2 linked regions of the Homo sapiens genome follow. The protein of the gene in region 1 purifies or fractionates together with the protein of each later gene. This does not show direct contact. Each region holds a gene or a part of one and is shown on either strand. Other genes may lie near its edges. The genes, in order: SETMAR and SETX.

What was found.
Region 2: the proteins of SETMAR (region 1) and SETX purify together in Homo sapiens (affinity purification with mass spectrometry; 2 studies listed by BioGRID and IntAct, with this or other methods). This does not show direct contact.

Annotation. Positions count from the first base shown.
Region 1 is NC_000003.12:4,313,366-4,318,059, reverse strand, and holds the end of SETMAR (histone-lysine N-methyltransferase SETMAR), read right to left. Parts: coding exon 4,299-4,694; coding exon of another isoform or gene 4,221-4,298; exon of another isoform or gene 3,665-4,220; intron 2,665-3,664; coding exon of another isoform or gene 2,572-2,664; exon of another isoform or gene 2,493-2,571; intron 1,849-2,492; coding exon 814-1,848; 3' UTR 795-813; downstream 1-794. UniProt on the Homo sapiens protein: Protein derived from the fusion of a methylase with the transposase of an Hsmar1 transposon that plays a role in DNA double-strand break repair, stalled replication fork restart and DNA integration.
Region 2 is NC_000009.12:132,295,884-132,303,180, reverse strand, and holds part of SETX (probable helicase senataxin), read left to right. Parts: intron 1-2,377; coding exon 2,378-2,551; intron 2,552-4,868; coding exon 4,869-5,101; intron 5,102-6,126; coding exon 6,127-6,294; intron 6,295-7,152; coding exon 7,153-7,297. UniProt on the Homo sapiens protein: Probable RNA/DNA helicase involved in diverse aspects of RNA metabolism and genomic integrity.

The sequences.
Region 1 (4,694 bases):
TGTATGTAACCTTAGGCACTCTAAAATGCAGGGCTCAGGGCAGGAACCTCTCTTGCTCAGCTCTAACCCTTCTGGTCACCTCTTAGTGACTTTTTCCCCCTTTAAGTCTGCCATTTGAAGGACATTATATCCTAATTACACCTGAATAGAAGGGAGAACTTTGGGTCACATCCTACAGACAGTTCTCAAGACTAATAATTTACATTTATTGAATACTTTCTATATACTCAGGCATTGCTCTAACCCCTTTGCATGTGTTAACTCAATCTTCCCAACTAAGGAAACTTTGACTTGGAAAGGTTCAGTGATTTGTTCAATGGTAACACACTGGAGAGTGACTACATTTTAATTAGGGCAAAATTTTCCATTTGGCCAAGAACAAAATCTAACAGCCACTGCTATTTTGTGAATAGTAATTTGAAAATTAAAGGAAAATTTTTTTAAAGAAAAGCTTTGTTCTTCAAGTGTGATCGTTATTATTCTTGGGCCAAAATGCTTTTCAAGGTACATGTTTTAATCTTTTTTTAAAAAATTATTTTATTAGAGTCAGGGTCTCACTATGTTGCCCAGGCTGGTCCTGAACAATTGGACTCAAGTGATCTGCCCGCCTGGGCCTCCCAAAGTGCTGGGATTACAGTTGTAAGCCACCATGCCAGGCCACATTTCTACATTCTTAATAAAGTCCGTGGAATCTACTTCAAATGCAATTTTAATTTATATTTCAATCTATGAAGATATTGGGTTGGTGCAAAACTAACTGCGGTTTTGGACTGTGAATTTTAAATCATTATAACTAGGCTCAACGCATTTTTATTAATCAAAATAGGAACCATTACAATCAACACATTTTTGCCAACGAGAAATAAGTTGGTTTATTCCTGTAGCGTAAAAATCCGTGCTTTGGGATTCGACGAACTCTTGGAAAGCATTTTCTGCATCCTGCTGGTTGTGGAAGCGTTTTCCCTGCAAAAAGTTGTTGAGATGCTTAAAGACGTGGTAGTTGGTTGGCAAGAGGTCAGGTGAATACGGTGGATGAGGCAAAACTTCATAGCCCAATTCATTCAACTTTTGAAGTGTGGGTTGTGCAACATGCGGTCGGGCATTGTCGTGGAGAAGAATTGGGCCCTTTCTGTTGACCAATGCCAGCTGCAGGCGTTGCAGTTTTTGGTTCATCTCATCGATTTCCTGAGCATACTTCTCAGATGTAATGGTTTCACCGGGATTCAGAAAGCTGTAGTGGATCAGACCAGCAGCAGACCACCAAATAGTGACCATGACCTTTTTTGGGTGCAAGATTGGCTTTGGGAAGTGCTTTGGAGCTTCTTCTTGATCCAACCACTGAGCTGATCGTCGCCGGTTGTCATATAAAATCCACTTTTCATCACACGTCACAATCCGATCGAGAAATGGTTCGTTGTGGTTGCGTAGAATAAGAGAAGATGACACTTCAAAACGACGATTTTTTTGATTTTCAGTCAGCTCATGAGGCACCCACTTATCGAGCTTTTTCACCTTTCCAATTTGCTTCAAATGTCGAACGACCGTAGAATGGTTGACATTGAGTTCTTCAGCAACTTCTCGTGTAGTTGTAAGGGGATCAGCTTCGATGATTGCTCTCAACTGGTCGTTGTCAACTTCTGATGGCCGGCCACTACGCTCCTCATCTTCAAGGCTCTCATCTCCTTTGCAAAACTTCTTGAACCACCACTGCACTGTACGTTCGTTAGCAGTTCCTGGGCCAAATGCATTGTTGATGTTGCGAGTTGTTTCTGCTGCTTTACGACCCATTTTGAACTCGAATAAGAAAATTGCTCGAATTTGCTTTTTGTCTAACATCATTTTCATAGTCTAAAATAAACATAAACAGCAAGTAAGATGTCATTAGCAAAAAAACATAAAGAAATGCTCATTAAAATGGTGTATAACATGACCACATTTAAGAATGTATTCCAATATCAAATACCAAATTCCAACAATGCAAAAACTGTTACTTTTTTTTTTTTTTTTTTTTTTGAGACAGAGTCTCGCTCTGTCACCCAAGCTGGAGTGCAGTGGTACAGTCTTGGCTCACTGCAACCTCTGCCTCCTGGGCTCAAGTGATTCTCGTACCTCAGCCTCCTGAGTAGCTGGGACTACAGACATGTGCCACCACATCTAACTAATTTTTGTATTTTTAGTAGAGATGGGGTTTCACCATGTTGGCCAGGGTGGTCTCAAACTCCCAAGCTCAAGTGTTCTGCCTGCCTCAGCCTCCCAAAGTGCTGGGATTACAGGTGTGAGCCACTGCACCCAGCCCCATCTTTTAAAATTTGAATCTTATAATTTATAAAAATGTTATTTTATCATGGGATAATAGTCAAGTGGAAGTATATTTTTAAATGTTTTCTCTCAAAAGAAGTGTCAACATTCTCAAAAATATGGCAATGAAGCAAACAAATGCAGTTAACTTGCTGCTTAGAAAAGACTTGGAATAAAGACTCTTTGACTCTTACCTTAGGAATCTGGTTTCTAGGATTAAGTGCTATATAATAAACTAGTGCCTGAGGACAAAAAATTTCCAGGGGTCCATATTCAGTCAGTTGTCTCTGGCAGAGGCACTGAGTTGGAGGGGGCTGTTTGTGTCCTTGTCTCTGAATGGAAGATTGTCCTCTGGGAATATCTCTGCTGTTCAATATAGAAAGGCAAAAGGACATAGAAAAGGGTATCTGCAGAATCAAATGGTGAGCCAATCATTTTCCTTCTAACCACTTCCATATTGCGTCTGAAGCAGCTCAGTTATTAGGTGAGCTTGTGAGCAAGAAAAAGCACATTTTGGAGTGAGGGATACAAGCTGCCTTATTAAAAGCAGGACTGCTTCAGAGGCATTGAAGTAATAGAGGACAGTTGGCATGGAGAAATGATTAATTTGGAGGAAAATTTTTGATACTATGTATTTGTAATTTGGGGCATTTTATGTGTACTCTAGTACCATTTGTTCACAGGGAACCATTCCATGTAATGTTATATGAACATTATAAACCCTAAGATACTTAAAAACGACCTAGCTTTATTGAGATATAATTCACACGCTGTATATTTCACTCATTTAAAGTGTACAATGTACTTATATTACAGAGGAATAGTGTTATATATAACATGGATTCCTATAATGTTGAAAGTGCAGGGCCTCCTAGTGGTAGGGTTTAAATGTACTAGAGAAGAAATTAAATTACTTAATAATATCATAGGGGCTCTAGTAATTATTTTAGCTTTCAAAATGTCTGATAAACCTCCACAGTAACTGTATTTTTGCAACATCCCTGCTTTAAGGAAGGTAGTTAGAGATGTTTGCTGCTCTAGAAGTTTAAACGGGATCATAAAACTCCCGTCTCCTTCTGTGGTGTGGACAGGGTTATTTTTCTGTTATTTATACATGAAGTGAGGCTGTTTGAAGTTTTGAAGCATAACTTCACAAGATTTGGAGTACAGCCAAGTATATAATGAAAATGAAAAATTTACAATGTGTCTCTTTTTCTGACTTTTGGTTACAACATGTAAGTCATTTTCATAGTTATATTTTTCACTACTGGTAGTACTTATTAGGGTTTTAGCAGGTGATAGTTAATAATGCCTTTTTCCTTGATCCATGCTTAGAAACAATTAAGTAGGACGCAGGAGTCAGACAGAAATCAAAAAGTCAGCTTTATTACTGTTAAAATTGGTTGGCAAGCAGGGTTTAGGTATGCAGCCACAAGGGTTTCTTGGATCATTATTAGGTTCGATGTTAGTGCTAGAAAACTTACAATAACAGTGACTTAAGCAAGGGAGAGACTATTTCTCACCTGAAAGTACAAAGGTGTCAGATCACGACTGACAGGATGTTCTACAGTACCAGACACCTAGACTCCTTTTAACCTTGTTGATTTTTCTATGCAATGGCTTCCTTTCCCAGGGTCATCCTGGGGTCTAGGATGACTGCTCCAGTTCCAGTCATCATGTATACATTCCAGCCAGCAGGAAGAAAGAGGAGGTGAAGGGCAGGATATCTCCATTTAAGGACTTGTCATTTTTGCTTATATCCTATTAACTAGAACAGTCACTAAGACAAATCTAACTAGGAAAGTGAGTATTCTGGGTAGTCATGTACTTTTGTTAAATGGAGAATTCTATTACAGAAAGGGGAAAGGATACTGATGGACAACTTGCAGTCTCTGCCACATTCCTGAGTTAAACTTATGTAACTAGGCAGAGGTAAAGCTAGCCAACCACTGTCTTCCACTATAGGGAGGGGCAAGCTGCTTATCACTGAACAGACTCACCTCAAGGGTCAATCGCTTGCAGGAGGGGAACACAGAAGGGGCTGAGCCACACATGCTGGGTTCCTTCTCATTTCCACAACTGATGTTCGACTTTTCTACGGGGCAGTACAGAGAACTGTCAAAAGGCAGGAAAGCAGTACATGATTTGGCACCACAGTAACAAGGTTTCCTTAGTTTCCCATGATCTAGCCTTTCTTTGTCTTCACTGACTGTTAGATTAAGATATCTTCCTGAATAATCATAAGAGAGTTCTTCTTCTGGCACAATATCTTTGGCTGCAAAAAGTGCCAACTTAGGTACCATTGAGTCAATTCGGACAGGAATCATCAAAAGGTTTGGCTCACAAGAATGATTAAGGAATCTTCCAATATTTCCTATATAAGTAGGGTCAACAAA
Region 2 (7,297 bases), on another chromosome or scaffold:
CTGAGCATGGTGGCACACACCTAGAGTCCCAGTGACATGGGAGGCTGAGGCAGGAGGATTTCTTGAGCCCAAGTGTTCAAGGCTGCAGTGAGCTGTGATCATACCACTGCATTCCAGTCTGGGAGATAGAACAAGACCCAATCTCTAAAAAAATAAATCAAAAACAATGTAAAAATAGGTGCTCAGTTTTAGTGTTACTTGTTAAAAAAAATGTAGCCTTTCTCATTGAATAACCTTGCCATTCAATAACTTGGCATATTTGTCGGAATATCAGTTGATCTTGATTGCAGGTCTGCTTTTAAACACCGTTTTCTTTATCTGTATAGCTGCCTTCCACCAATACCACAGTCTCTTATTGTTGTTTTATAAAAAATACTGAAATTGGATAGTCAGCCTTTCAGTTTTGTTCTTTGTAAAAAGTTTCTTTTTATTGTCATCAGTTTTAGAATCAACTTGTCAACATTTATAAAAATGCCTGCTGGTTTTTTTTTTTTTTTTTGCTTTTTTTTTTTTTTTTTTTGAGACAAAGTCTCACTCTTGTTGCCCAGGCTGGAGTGCAATGGCGCAATCTTGGCTCACAGCAATCTCCACCTCCCAGGTTCAAGCGATTCTCCTGCCTCAGCCTCCCAAGTAGCTGGGATTACAGGCGCCTGCCACGACGCCTGGCTAATTTTTGTATTTTTAGTAGAGATGGGGTTTCACCATGTTGGCCAGGCTGGTCTCAAACGCCTGACCTCAGGTGATCCGCCCGTCTCGGCCTCCCAAAGTGCTGGGATTACAGGCGTGAGCCACCACACCTGGCCTTTTTTTTTTTTTTTTTTTTTGAGATGGATTCTTGCTCTGTCACCCAGGCTGGAGTGCAGTGGTGTGATCTCGGCTCACTGCAAGCTCCGCCTCCTGGGTTCACGTCATTCTCCTGCCTCGGCCTCCCGAGTAGCTGGGACTACAGATGCCTGCCACCATGCCCGGCTAATTTTTTGTATTTTTAGTAGAGACGGGGTTTCACCGTGTTGGCCAGGATGTTCTCGATCTCCTGACCTCATGATCCACCTGCCTTGGCCTCCCAGAGTGCTGGGATTACAGGCGTGAGCCACTGTGCCTGGCGGCCATCTGCTGGTATTTTTACTAGGATTGCTTTGACTCTAAAGATTAATTTGGGGACAGCTGACATTTTAACAATATTAAGTCTTAGGCCTTGAACTTAGTACATTTCTTCATTTGTTCAGGCTGTCTTCAGTTTCTCTCAGCAGTGGTTTGTATTTTTCAGAGTATAGGGCTAGATTCGGCAGTTGGTACTGAACTTTATTCCAGTGCTTTCTCTGTTTTCCTAGTCCCATGTAGTTTACAACCGTCTTTCCCCACTTGTTTGAAATGCGTAGAAGTTGCAAAATTCTTGTATGTACAATCACATGTCACTTAATGATGGGGATACATTCTCAGAAATGTGTCAGGCGATTTCATCATCATGCCAACATCATGAGAAGTAAGAGTGTACTTAGAGGAACCTAGGCGGTGTAGCCTACCACACACCTAGTCTGCCAACCTGTACAGCATGTTACCGTATTGAATACTGTAGGTAATTGTAACATGGGGAAGTATTTGTGTATCTAAACATAGAAAAGATACAGTAAAAATATATTATAATCTTATGGGACCACTGTTGTATATATCCGGTCCATCACTGACCACAACATCATTATGCGGTGTATAACTACTTGGATCTGTTTCCGAATTTTCTTCGGGGGTTTTGAAAGTTGGAAACAAATGAGAGAAATTTAGTTAAAAACCAGAATAGGCCAGGCACAGTGGCTCACCCCTGTAATCCCAGCACTTTGGGAGGCTGAGGCGGGCGGATCACGAGGTCAGGAGATCGAGACCATCCTGGCTAACACAGTGAAACCCCATCTCTACTAAAAATACAAAAAAATTAGCCGGGCGTGGTGGCGGGCGCCTCCAGCTATTTGGGAGGCTAAGGCAGGAGAATGGCGAGAACCTGGGAGGCTGAGCTTGCAGTGACCCGAGATCGCGCCACTGCACTCCAGCCTGGGCAACACAGCGAGACTCCATCTCAAAAAAAAAAAAAAAAAAAAAAGCAGAATAAACCTAAAGGAAAGAAAATTTATTAGCTACTTTTCAATATTATAGTTTTGTCTATTTTGGCCTTATAGCAGTTTTGAAGAAAACTATATTCTATAATTGATATTTTTAATATTTGAAGTTTTTGATTGGATTAGATTACCATTTTAAAGTATATGCAGAGTCCTTTAGTGCTGTGTATTTTTGAACTTAATACAAGGATTTAATTTCTTTTAAGTTAATCTTATTTAAAATAATTCTATTAGAGTTATATGAATTCCGACTTCTTCTTGTTTCATAGTTTATCTGGAAGAATGTGAACTGGCTAAACAGCTTTATCCAAAGGAAAACGATTTGGTGTTTTTAGCTCCTGAGAGAATAAATGAAGAGAAGAAAGATACAGAGAGAAATGACATACAAGATCTCCACGAATATCATTCTGGTTATGTTCATAAATTTCGCCGCACGTCAGTCAGTAAGTAAATAATGAGGCATTGACAGGAAATGTCAGATACAGTCTCATCTAATAATCTACTTCTCAATTGTGTATATCAAGTGTATTTGATAGACATTTACCGAACATGTTTTTGCTATGTTGATTACATGGCCATTCAGAGTCTCTTTTCTAGTTTTTCTAGACTTAACTGGAAAAGACCTTGTATTTATTTTTGTAATGTTCTATCCTTTTGTTACATTTCTTTATCCATCATTGTGTTTGCTATAAAATGGACCATTTGCAGACCATCTGTTGTTTGTTAAATTACATTTCATCCTTGGTTTTGTGGCCAATTACTAATGAGATGACCAAACATAAAACTCACTGTAAGGCAGCTTGAGGAATCTGCTTACATCACTTCCATCCGTTGTATGTTTCTCCCTAGGTAATTTAATAACAAAAATATTAGCCTAAATTTAATGAATACCAGATGTATGCAGTGAGACTTGTCCCTTTTTTTTTTTTTTTTTTTTTTTTTGAGACGGAGTTTCACTCTTGTTGTCCAGGCTAGAGTGCAGTGGTGCTGTATCGGCTCACTGCACTCTCCGCCTCTTGGGTTCAAGCGATTCTCCTGCCTCAGCTTCCCAAGTAGCTGGGATTATAGGCATCCGCCACCAGTCCCGGCTAATTTTTTGTGTTTTTAGTGGAGACGGGGTTTCACCATGTTGACTAGGCTGGTCTCGAACTCCTCACCCCCATCAACCTCCCAAAGTGCTGGGATTACAGGCGTGAGCCACCGCGCCCAGCCGAGACTTGTCCTTCTTATGTACATTTATAATCTTCCCCAAAGCCCCAAAAGGTAGAAGAAATTATTCCTTGCTCCCCAGGAAATCATGGTTCAGGGATGTTAAGTAAACCTATTTTCAAGGCTGTCATCAGTGTTAATTGGTAAGTCCAGAATTGAAGCCTGCTTTTGTTGACTGCAAAGTCCACATTGTTTTTCTTATGCCAAACTGCCTTTTTGGCAATTGCAACTTTTTTAGTCTTAGTTATGTGAAGAGAAGAACATTATTTCATTATTCCTTCTCCTTTTTGCATGATATATTAATATAGCAATAAAGTGTGTCAACATTGTACTGCATTATAACAGGTGTACCATGTTTATTTGTGTGATCAGGGCTTAATTCTGTAGAATATAGGATACATTTAGAAGAGTTGCAGTGAGGATTGATGGCTTACTCTGTGCTTTTGGCTCTTGAAAATGATTACCTTTGCCAAATTTATAGTTCTAAGGCAGTCTCATTCCCTGAACTCCTCATAGATCAAAATCATGTCTTGGATACCTCCATTTGGAAATGTGTTAGACATTTCAAATCCACTAGTCCAAAAGTTAACACTTGATTTTCTGCCTGACATCTGCACTTCCTTCATTCTTTCCCATCTTGTTAATTGGGGCCTCACTTCTTTCAGTTACTCAGGCCAAAAACCTTGGAGTTATCCATGATCCTTACTTTCTCTCACACCTCACTTCTAATTTGTCAGCAGATATGATTGATTTTTCCTTTGCAATATATCCCAAATCCAGTTCCCACGTCTACTAGTGCCTCCTGGTCCAAGCTGTCATTAACTTTTACCTAAATTACTATGGTAACCTTGTAAGTGGTCTTTTTGTTTCTGTACTTTTCTCATTGTAGTTATTCTTTGTTCTGAGGTAAGAGTGGTTCTTTTAGTTTGTGAGATAGAGCATGTTATTTCCCTACACAGAGTGCCCAATGGTTTTCTACCCTGATCCTGAATAGCGTTCAGAGTCATTACTGTGATCTGCACAGCCCTATAAAATGTAGCCCCGTTTTACTCTGAGTCGCTAAGCGTTCTTCTCCCTATTTTTCCTTCTATCCATGTTAGCCTTCTCCCTATTTCTAAAATATTCCTGGCACATCTCTGTCTTACGATCTTTGCAGTTGCTTATTTTCTGCATGTAGTACTATTTACCCTCTGCTGAGTACTGTTTACTCCCTTACTTCAAGTCTCTGCTCAAATATTTCATCAGGAAGACCTTCTCGGACCAGCTTATCTGCCTCCATCCCCATCACTTCCTCCCTTTGTGTGCTTTCTTCAGAGCACTTACTACCACCTGACATATTTATTTGGTTATCTGCCTCCATCTTCTAGAAAATAAGCCTCCGGAGGACAGAACATTACTGGGTTCAGGAAGCAGTCCATAAATATTTACTGGGTAAATTATGTAAATAATATCCAAAAATATGTTAAAAATACCTAATTCTGCATGACCTTTACAACTAGGCAGCATTATTCAGTGATAACTGAAGTTGCTTTTTCTCTTTCTTGATGATAGTGCGTAATGGGAAAACTGAGTGTTACCTTTCCATCCAGACTCAAGAGAACTTTCCGGCCAATTTAAACGAACTTGTGAATTGTATTGTAATCAGTTCTCTGGTAACTACACAAAGGAAGTTGAAAGCCATGTCTCTGTTGGGTAGTCGGAACCAACTGGCTAGAGCTGTTCTGAATCCAAACCCTATGGACTTCTGTACAAAAGATTTACTGACTACAACATCTGAGAGAATTGTGAGTGATGATGTATGATACTAGATAATTTCATGTTAAGATGTTAAAGCATCATATTTTTTAGCTGCTATGTATTCCTATATGTTTACAACAAAAATGTGTTCACGGTGAACAGTTTAGTGTTAGTTTTCTTTAGTATTGCAAAGTATGTAATTTAGGTTAAGTCAGCTCACTTCAGGAAAAGGTACAGTACAATAAGCGTCGAAGGTTGCTGGAAGAGCAACATTAAAATGTTAGGTCAGCAGCCTACTTAATGTGCATTAGGTGAGAAGTCTCAGGTTTAGTGGTGTTAAATTTACATTTGAATGATTGATGGAGAATTGGCCGGTATTGTTGGAAATGCAAAGATGAAGTTGTCAACTGAACATGTGAAGCTGTGTATAAACTCTAGGAAGTTAACAGAGAAATGCAAAAGGAAACTAACTATTTAGAAACTCTAGAGCTGTATGCTATGGCTTTCATGTGCATTATCTCAGTCTGTTCTCACCTCTTAAGGAATCCTAGATTTAATGAGTAACAGAGGCCAAGGCTTGGGTTAGGAGCGTAGTGGCCTAGCTTGTAAGTGCAAGTGAAGCTTACACCCAGATCTTCCCCTGGCATACATGCTTTTTCCACTGTATCACATGTGCTAGGAAATAAATAGTCTTGGGATGTTTTCACTAAGGAGAAAATTGACTAAAGAAGGAAAAAAACAGAGTAGTAAATAGAAGAAAAGTTGTGGATTAGTAAATGCAATTTATTGTGATTATCTTTGTAAGAATAAAAAATAAAAGTACAGTTGTATTTGTAAGTACTTGAAGCGTTACAGACACTAATTAGTAATTAGTAAGTAATTAGCTTTCTTTCCAGTAGTGAACGTGCTTTTTAGATTAAAGGTCACTTTGGTGTCCTTGTCTTGTCTGACCATAACCAAAGCTTTTGTCTCATGCATTGAAAGAAATTTGGACAGGTCTTTTTCATGTTCTTCCTTTCAAATTCCACTACAGAAACAGCAACTCATTCTCAAAAATGTGTTTTTTATATAGATTGCGTACTTAAGAGATTTCAATGAAGATCAAAAGAAAGCAATAGAAACTGCATATGCTATGGTGAAACACTCACCATCAGTTGCCAAAATCTGCTTGATTCATGGACCACCTGGAACAGGAAAATCAAAAACTATTGTTGGCCTCCTCTATCGTCTACTGACAGAGGTAGGTATGGGTGAGGGCACTGATGCTGTTAACTAGCTGTATCATTTTACTTTACTTGAGTTAACTGACATGTAAATAAGTATTAACATGCCATTTCCTCTTTGATTTGTATATATTTTTTATATTGTGTGTAACTGTGTCAGAGAAAAGGGTGGCAGAGGGAGGGAAGGTTATGGGAAATAAAAAGAGGAAAAAACCACTATCTTATGTGAAACAAATCGTAAGGACTAGAATGATGGTCTTCAGGCTTCACGGTAGGTCACGTAGAATGCTGTGAATGCTGGGCTGCATTTTGGTTGGATTGTGGTTTTTTGTTTTTTTTTTTTGAGACAGTGTCTCGCTGTCATCCAGGTTAGGGTACAGTGGCACGATCTTGACTCACAGCAACCTCTGCCTCCCAGGTCAAGTGATTCTCCTGCCTCAGCCTCCCGAGTACCTCCCTAGTGGCTGGGATTACAGGCGTACACCACCACCCACAGCTAATTTTTGTATTTTTAGTAGAGATGGGGTTTCGCCATGTTGGCCAGGCTGGTCTCGAGCTCCTGACCTCAAGTGATCCGCCCGCCTCGGCCTCCCGAAGTGCTGGGATTACAGGCGTGAGCCACTGTGCCTGGCTTGGATTGAGTATTCATTAAAGTAAGTGGATGATAAAGTAAGGCTCAGAGCAGTTATGACAAATTTTTTTGCTGGAGTAATTTTAAATATCAGTGTTAGATGTAGATGCTTTTATTTATTTTTAACTTTATTACGAGAACTTTCAAAAATACATGGAAGTAAAGACAAACTTTAAAGCTATGTAATAGAGCTCACCCATATTTTTTGTGTGTTTGTTTGGTATGTATATGTGGCAAATTGTAGAACCAGAGGAAGGGGCATTCAGACGAAAACTCCAATGCCAAAATCAAACAAAACCGTGTCCTCGTGTGTGCACCTTCCAATGCAGCTGTTGATGAACTCATGAAAAAAATTATCCTTGAATTCAAAGAAAAATGTAAAGACAAGA